Linked DNA regions of Homo sapiens. The protein of the gene in region 1 interacts with the protein of each later gene in a biochemical or structural test. Each region holds a gene or a part of one and is shown in the gene's direction. Other genes may lie near its edges.

Region 1 (3,906 bases):
GCATGAGAAAAGCTAAATGTGGCAAGTTCTGAAGCTTTCAAAAGTGAGGCCACTCACCGCTGGTCTCTGGTGGACAGAGCATCTCAATCCCTAACTCAGCCCTCCTCTGGACTCTTCTTCCTCCCTTCAATTCCCAAAACTCCCTTTGGGTCTTAAAGCAGCCAACCAACTAATTTCCCTGAATTTTTATATGTTCCCAGCCCCAGTGCAATCTTACTTTGTCTACCTGCTCCCAAGGCCTAAATGTGTTTTTATAAACAGACTTTTCAAAAACGTATCAAATGTCAGAGAATTGAACTACCAGTATTTACACATTCGGGGTTTGCCTCCGGGTGAAAATGTAAACAGAACCCCCAACCACACTACCTGCATTCTTTCCTTGAAGAACCAGGTCTTTAAAAGGCTCTCCTTGTGCTAAAAAATTGCAGACCCACGCAAGTTGGGGGTTTAGAGCAGTAGGTCACTATTTTGTTCCGAGCTCAACTGCAAGCCCCTGGCGCTTACCAACGAGCCTAGTTTCAGTTAATCCCTATTCTAGGTTCAATGCTTTAAGACGCTTGTCTGGGGACGTTCAAGGATGTTAACCCCTTTCCTAGAAAAAGAATGGGCCCTGCACCGACTCTAATCCTGGGCTTTTAAGTCCCTGTCTCCTACCGCCCAGCCGCGGCAAACCTGAAATATATATATTTCTCAATCCTGCTGCCCAAGACTCTAGGGCTAGTGGAGGGCAGAGCCCGAGCACAGAGTCAACTGCAACACCGAAGTTGGGCGCCCTCCATTCGCACTGACCTCGCCTTCCTGCCCCAACCACTTTGTCGGCGGTGAGCAAGGAAAGGACTGTCCTTGTGGAGTCCTTCGGGTGGGGATCGCTTTGTGGCCTGCGGCCGGACTCTGCCCGCCTCCAAAGGGCGATGCTCAAGGTGGAGTCTTTGGTCTCCCTTGGGCTAACCTGGCCTGACCAGCGGCGAGCCCCAGGCCGCCCTGTCCCGCGCTGGCGCCGCAGGCCCTCGCCTCCCTCTAATTTACAGCCCGCGGGCTCCTGTTGACACCGTTTTCCACACCGAACTCCTTCGGGTGGAATCTGCATATACACATCAGCCTCCCCTCTCGGCTTGGGGCCAAGCCTGGGGTGATTTCAGCTCCTGCCATTTACCACCCGCCCTCGCCGCACGTGAGCCTTCTCAAGAAGCTCATGCCACACGGGCGCTGCGGCCCGGGTGCCCCGCGGCCCGGTGACTTACAAGTGGAGATCCATTTTCCGTTATAATGCGTTCAAGATCACCAAGGCCAGCAGTCTCAACATCCACGAGCCGTCCTCCCGGCCTGCCTCTTAAACTGGCGTTTAATGGTTCCCCTCCGATAACTAAACCTGCTTTCCACAGATGCCCGCTTTTATGAGGGAGGCAGGAATGCAGAGATATATTTATATGTTTGTTCATAAAAACTGGAAAATAAGCTCTGAACACGCCGTAAAAAATATTCAGTTACTTACCAAACAGGCTAGTTAAACCAGGGGAACACCGATACCAGCCACACTACAGATTCGGGGAATCGAGGTGCCCGCACTTCAAAATCGCCCAAGGTCTTCGTAGGGACTGGTGTCCCTGAAGGATGTGGAAATAACAGCATTTACAATCGGCTTGACATGTTCGCCCGGAGGACTCAGCCGTCATCTCCAAAGTTTGCCGCAATAACGTGAGCCACCCCAAACAGCTCTAACCGGGGTAACTTGGTGGGTAACTCAATAGCCACTGAGACCGGCGTTTCGAGCCTGTAAACGGGTCAAAGAAACACCCTTCTCCAGCCGCTCCTCGTCCCTGCTGGGGCAAAGAGCGCCAGCTCCCAGCCGCGCCTTTGTGGGGGCCCCCACCGCCCGTCACGAGGCTCCCGGCGCCCCTGCATAAAATTGTAAGAGGCTGCCTGCGTATATTTTCTTACCTCGATTACCTACAAAGCACTTCGAAAAGCAATACCTGCGTTTTCTTTCTTTCTTTCTTTTCAACCAGAAAAGAGAGCAGAGTGATACTGTACCTGGTTAGAGATTCTTCAATATTTGAGACTTGGGGGGAAAATATTTTAATAGTGAAGCATCTGTTAAACACTTGCATTATCCTCTGACTGATAAAAAAAGTTTTTTTAACCCTGCCCCCCCCCCCCGCCAAGTTTTAATTATCTTATGGTTATGAGGAGGTAGCCAATCCTGGAAGAGGACCTCGGCAATTAGCAACGTGAACATCAAAAAGTTTTATTGCCGAGAGCTCGAGGCGCCGCCCCTGCCGCCCCGGGATTGGCGTGAGGAGCCTCTGACGACATATATTAACCCGAGCGGCCCTAAAGATGTAGCTGTACATGGAGATCTTGCTGGGAAAATCCGCTTGCTCCCCTCACGTCGTCCAGCCCAGGAGAACCACCGCCGTCACCCCGGAGCTTCCTCGGCCACCGCGCAGAGCCCTCCGAGAGCCCGAGCCGCGGTCTTCGAGCTCCAAGGCTCATTCAGGGCCCCAGATCCTTGCCCCGAAAGGAGAGGATCTGAGAAAATGGATGCACTGAGACCTCTCTGAAAACCCTCCGAGAGAGCGCGAGAGGAGCGAGGACACGTTACTCGCAGCTAAAATCACATTTAAGGACCAAAACAACAACAACCAAAAATTTCATTAAAACAATAAGCGCCCAAGAACCCAGATCGGGCTGGTGGGGGGAGGGGAAGAGGCGGGAAGGGGAGGGTCGCACGGAGGTAGCTTTGCAGTGAGCAGTCGACCCCGCCGCCCCCCGGCACAGCTGGACCGGCTCCTCCAGCCGCGGCTCAGACTCGCCCCTGGATTCCGGGTTAGCTTCGGTGCCAGGACCGCGGCCCGGGCTTGGATTCCCGAGACTCCGCGTACCAGCCTCGCGGGAGCCCCGGCACCTTTGTATGAGCACGAGAGGATTCTGCCTCCGCGCAGCAGCCCGGGAAGCAGGAGCCGAAGCGCGGGCCGTGGAGCAAGGCGGGAACCGGAGGCGGCGGCGGCGGCGGCCAGGGGCGCACGGTGCCAGGACCAGCTCGCCGCGCCCCATGGGGAGCCGGCGGCCGCAGCGCTGCTGAGGCGGGCCCGGCTGGCCAGGCGGGGGGACGGGGCCCGGGCTGCAGCAGCCCCCTCTGCGGCTGCCGGGCGGGCCCGGGCGCCCGGGGGCTGGGGGGTGGGGGGTGGGGGAGGACGCCGAGCGCTGAGGCAGGGGCCCGGGCCGAGGGCGCGGCGGGGCTGCGCGCACGCTGGGGCGCGTGGAGGGGCGCGGAGGGCGAAATGAGTCTGGTAGGTGGTTTTCCCCACCACCCGGTGGTGCACCACGAGGGCTACCCGTTTGCCGCCGCCGCCGCCGCAGCTGCCGCCGCCGCCGCCAGCCGCTGCAGCCATGAGGAGAACCCCTACTTCCATGGCTGGCTCATCGGCCACCCCGAGATGTCGCCCCCCGACTACAGCATGGCCCTGTCCTACAGCCCCGAGTATGCCAGCGGCGCCGCCGGCCTGGACCACTCCCATTACGGGGGGGTGCCGCCGGGCGCCGGGCCCCCGGGCCTGGGGGGGCCGCGCCCGGTGAAGCGCCGAGGCACCGCCAACCGCAAGGAGCGGCGCAGGACTCAGAGCATCAACAGCGCCTTCGCCGAACTGCGCGAGTGCATCCCCAACGTACCCGCCGACACCAAACTCTCCAAAATCAAGACCCTGCGCCTGGCCACCAGCTACATCGCCTACCTCATGGACCTGCTGGCCAAGGACGACCAGAATGGCGAGGCGGAGGCCTTCAAGGCAGAGATCAAGAAGACCGACGTGAAAGAGGAGAAGAGGAAGAAGGAGCTGGTCAGTACCAGGGGGCGGCAGGCGGTGGGGCTGAGGGGGTCAGGGAACTGGTGCTCCCGGCCTCTTTCCA
Region 2 (3,906 bases), on another chromosome or scaffold:
CGCTTGAGCCCAGAAGGTTGAGGCAGCAGTGAGCTATGATCCCACCTCTGCACTGCAGCCTGGGTGACAGAGTAAGAGTATCTCAAAAATAAGTAAGTAAACAGACAAATACTGTATGATTCCACTTATACGAGGTCCCTGGTCAAAATAACAGAGACCAGCCTGGGCAACATAGTGAGACCCCCATCTCTACAGAAGATTTAAAAATTAGCTAGGCATGGTGGTGTGCACGTGTAGTCCCAGCTACTCAGGACGCTGAGGCGGGAGGATCGCCTGAGCCAAGGAATGCAAGACTGCACCATGATCTCGTTGCTGTACTCCAGCCTGAGTGACAGAGTGAAAGACTGTCTGAAAAAAAAAAACACAAAATCATAGGGACAGAAAGAGGAATGGCGGTTTGCAGGTAGGATGGGGAAATGGAAGGTGTTGTTTAACGGGTAGAGTTTTGATTTTACAGGATTCAAAGAGTTATGGAGATGGATGTATTAATACATAAATATGAATGTATTTACTACCACAGAACTATAGCTCAAAGTGGCTAAGATGGTAAATTTTATGTTATGTGTATTTTGCCACAATAAAAACATTTGACAAGAGGTAATTTGAGAAACCTCAAAGAAATCCCCTGGCATGGAGTGGTTCCGGAGATTGGGGATAGAGAGTCCTCCTGGGAAGCCCAGAACGGATGATGGGGGAAGGATTACCTGAGGAGAGGCGCACTCCCCTCTGTCCTGACAAACTTGGGGAGAATTCCAGGAGTCCTTCTATCAACCCCCAAGGACTTCAGCTGGAAACAAAGACACGCCCTTCCCGCGGCTTCTCCATGGGTCTAGGACTCCCCATCTACAAGACCTGCCAAGATCGGTGGAAGAGGCTGGGGGTTGAGTGGACGAGCTGCCCAACCCAGCTCAGGAGCGACGGAAAAGTTATCTGTTCCCTTCTCTTGGTAAGGATTCTGAATGTGTCCCGCTGTCCCACAGCACGAGGGAGCTGGTGACTGAATCTGTGCAGGGATGTCTGGGCCAGGTGCAGACTGAGTCTAGGTGGTTTCCCTGGAGAAAAAAAGCGGGGGGCCCTGGAGAACAGGGGTAAGAGACTGAAGAACAATAAAGAGGTCACGGGGTACGTTCCCTTTCTGACATCCATCGCATCCTGAGCCCAAGGTCACAGGAGAGGGTCGCATACTGCAGATGGAGCTGAGGGAACGGGGGGAGAGGCAGGCGGGCCCTGAAGGTGCAAGGTCGTGTGGGCCTCGGGACAAGTCAGGGTAGAGGGACCTGGCTCCCACGACCCTCCCTCTCCGCAGCCCCGTGGAGGCCGCACCCCAGAGCCTCCAGCATCATCCCTGGGCCCCTCTGCGCTCCAGCCCTCGTGTCTAAGCTCCCCGGAGGCGTTTTCTCTCCGCTCTCAGCCTCTGCTCCCGCGCTTGTGGCTGTCCCTGGCCCTGTCTCTCTCAGACTGTCCCTGGGCATATGTGTCTGTCTCACGATTCCTGCCTCTGTTTTGTCTCATCCCTCCCTTGCTCTCCACCGCAGTCCTGGTTGCCGTCCATGTCTCATCCCGACCCCTTCTGTCTCCATGCCTCCCTCACTCTCTTTCTCGTCCCCCTGTCTCCCTGTCTCCTCTTGTCTCTCTCTTAACCTCATCTCCTGTCTCTGCCCTGTCCCCGCTCCATCCTGTCTCTCTCTTACCCTCATCTCCTGTCTCTGCCCTGTCCCCGCTCCATCCTGTCTTTCGCTGTGTATGTTCCGTCCTTGTCTCCCTCTGTGTACCTGTATCTCTTGTCCCTGTCTCCATCACTGTTTCTGCCCCTTTCTCTCCCGGTCTCTGTTTCCTCTGTCTATCCACGTCCCTTCCCTGTCCCCATCCCAGGCTCCGTCTCTTCCCGGTCTCCATCCCCCTTCCTGGGCCGCCTCCGCAGTCTCCGCCGGGATGGGACCTCGCTGGGGGCGGGGCTGAGGGGCCAGATCGGAATAACTCGGTTATCAGAGCGAATTGAATTAACTTCTTCACACGAGCGCCGCCAGGCCTGCCTCCCCTCCCTTCCGCGGGGCCGCAGGTGGGGAGGCCCGGGAAAAGGGTCGGGACCCTCTGGCCTCGGACGCTGTGTAGAGACCGAAGGTCTGGTCCGGATTGGGGCAGGATAGGGACTCCGGGGATAGGGTCCCGCGCATCCCAGCTCCACACCTCTGAGCCCTAAGACGGCGGCGGGGACCCTTCGGGGTGGGGGTCGGGGCGGCTTTGGGCGGTGTCTGGGCCTCCTAGGCCCCGCCCCTTCGGAGCTCGCCCCGCCCCGCCCCCCTCCGCGGGGTCCTGCGCGTTAAAAGGCGCGCGGGCCGGGCTGGCTGCACTTGCGTTGCACCCGGGCTGAGTGCGGCCGCGACGGGGCGGGCGGACTCTCGGGCGCTCAGAGCTGGCCTCGGGTCCTCGGAGCCTGGCGCTCGAACCTCCCTTCCGACCTCCACCCGGACCCCGACCCCGACCCGGCCTGGCCCGGCCCCCGCCCCCGCCCCCCGGGCCGATGGACTACTCCTACCTCAATTCGTACGACTCGTGCGTGGCGGCCATGGAGGCGTCCGCCTACGGCGACTTTGGCGCCTGCAGCCAGCCCGGCGGCTTCCAATACAGCCCCCTGCGGCCCGCTTTCCCCGCGGCAGGGCCGCCCTGCCCCGCGCTCGGCTCCTCCAACTGCGCACTTGGCGCCCTACGCGACCACCAGCCCGCGCCCTACTCGGCAGGTGAGCGCAGCCCCGGCCCAACCCTCCCTCCAATTCCTGCAGAATCCCTGGGCCCGCTCGCCAAGTGAATGCGACTGTCCCCCTCAGCCGCCCCCATTCCTGCCTTGGCCAGACCCTCCAATGCCCCGAGAGACCCCCAGAATACGAGGTTCTCCTCCGCAGGAATGAGCCTCACCCTCTCATCTCTCCTGTTCCTTTTTCTCGTTGCCAAATCTCTGTCTCGTGCCCTTCAGGTCAAGGAAATATATCCCCATCCAGCTCTGGGCCCCTTACCAGGCCTTCCCCTCACCACCTGCAAAGACTGACCACTAAACCTCTACAAGCGCTGGATCTTTGAAAAAGGCTCCCAGCCCAGCCCTATCACCACTTATCACCCCACCCCATCACCGCTGCCCCACGAGATGCATGACCCCCAGCAAGGACCTCTCCAGGCAGCTGAGCTGCCCAGACGGGAAGCTTCCTAGAGCTCGCGTGGCCATCAGGCCCCTCCTGCCCTGTCTTGGACCCACGCTGCCTGGGACCGAACCCTTCTGTAGCCACCAAAACCAGATCCCGTAGCCCGCAATAAAGGGGCCCGGGTTTTTAAGCCACTTGTATTTCCCCATTCCCCCAGACTCTCCCAGCTAGAGTTCTGTAGAACCCGGAAGCAGCTCCTGCATCCCCAAGACTTTAGATCCAAGTCCCTGTCCAAACCCTCAACCTCACTGAGCTTCTCAGTCATCTCAGCCCTCTGATTAGAGTCCCAGCCTGCCCTATGTAATCTTATCGCCTTCCCTCCTGGGAAGACTGCCGGGGACCCAAGTAGAAGACTGGGGCCTAAGGGCCAGGCGCGGTGGCTCATGCCTGTAATCCCAGCACTTTGGGAGGCCAAGGCGGGTGGATCACTTGAGGTCAAGAGTTCAAGACCAGCCTAACCAACATGGTGAAACCCCATCTCCATTAAAAATACAAAAAAAAAAAAAAATTAGCTGGGCATGGTGGCCCACGCCTGTAATCCCAGCTACTTGGGAGTCTGAGGCAGGAGAATCGCTTGAACCTGGGAGGCAGAGGTTGCAGTGAGCTGAGACTGTGCCATTGCATTCCAGCCTGGGTGACAGAATGAGACTCGGTCTCAAAAAAAAAAGAAGAAGAAGAAGAAGAAGACTGGGCCCTAGGCTGGGGTTTGGGG

Evidence for each region.
Region 2: the proteins of HAND2 (region 1) and PHOX2A form a complex in vitro, tested with the Homo sapiens proteins (one study listed by BioGRID).

Annotation. Positions count from the first base shown.
Region 1 is NC_000004.12:173,528,665-173,532,570, reverse strand, and holds the start of HAND2 (heart- and neural crest derivatives-expressed protein 2), read left to right. Parts: upstream 1-2,341; 5' UTR 2,342-3,281; coding exon 3,282-3,836; exon of another isoform or gene 3,837-3,906. UniProt on the Homo sapiens protein: Essential for cardiac morphogenesis, particularly for the formation of the right ventricle and of the aortic arch arteries. Required for vascular development and regulation of angiogenesis, possibly through a VEGF signaling pathway.
Region 2 is NC_000011.10:72,242,620-72,246,525, reverse strand, and holds the start of PHOX2A (paired mesoderm homeobox protein 2A), read left to right. Parts: upstream 1-2,349; 5' UTR 2,350-2,521; coding exon 2,522-2,738; intron 2,739-3,906. UniProt on the Homo sapiens protein: May be involved in regulating the specificity of expression of the catecholamine biosynthetic genes. Acts as a transcription activator/factor. Could maintain the noradrenergic phenotype.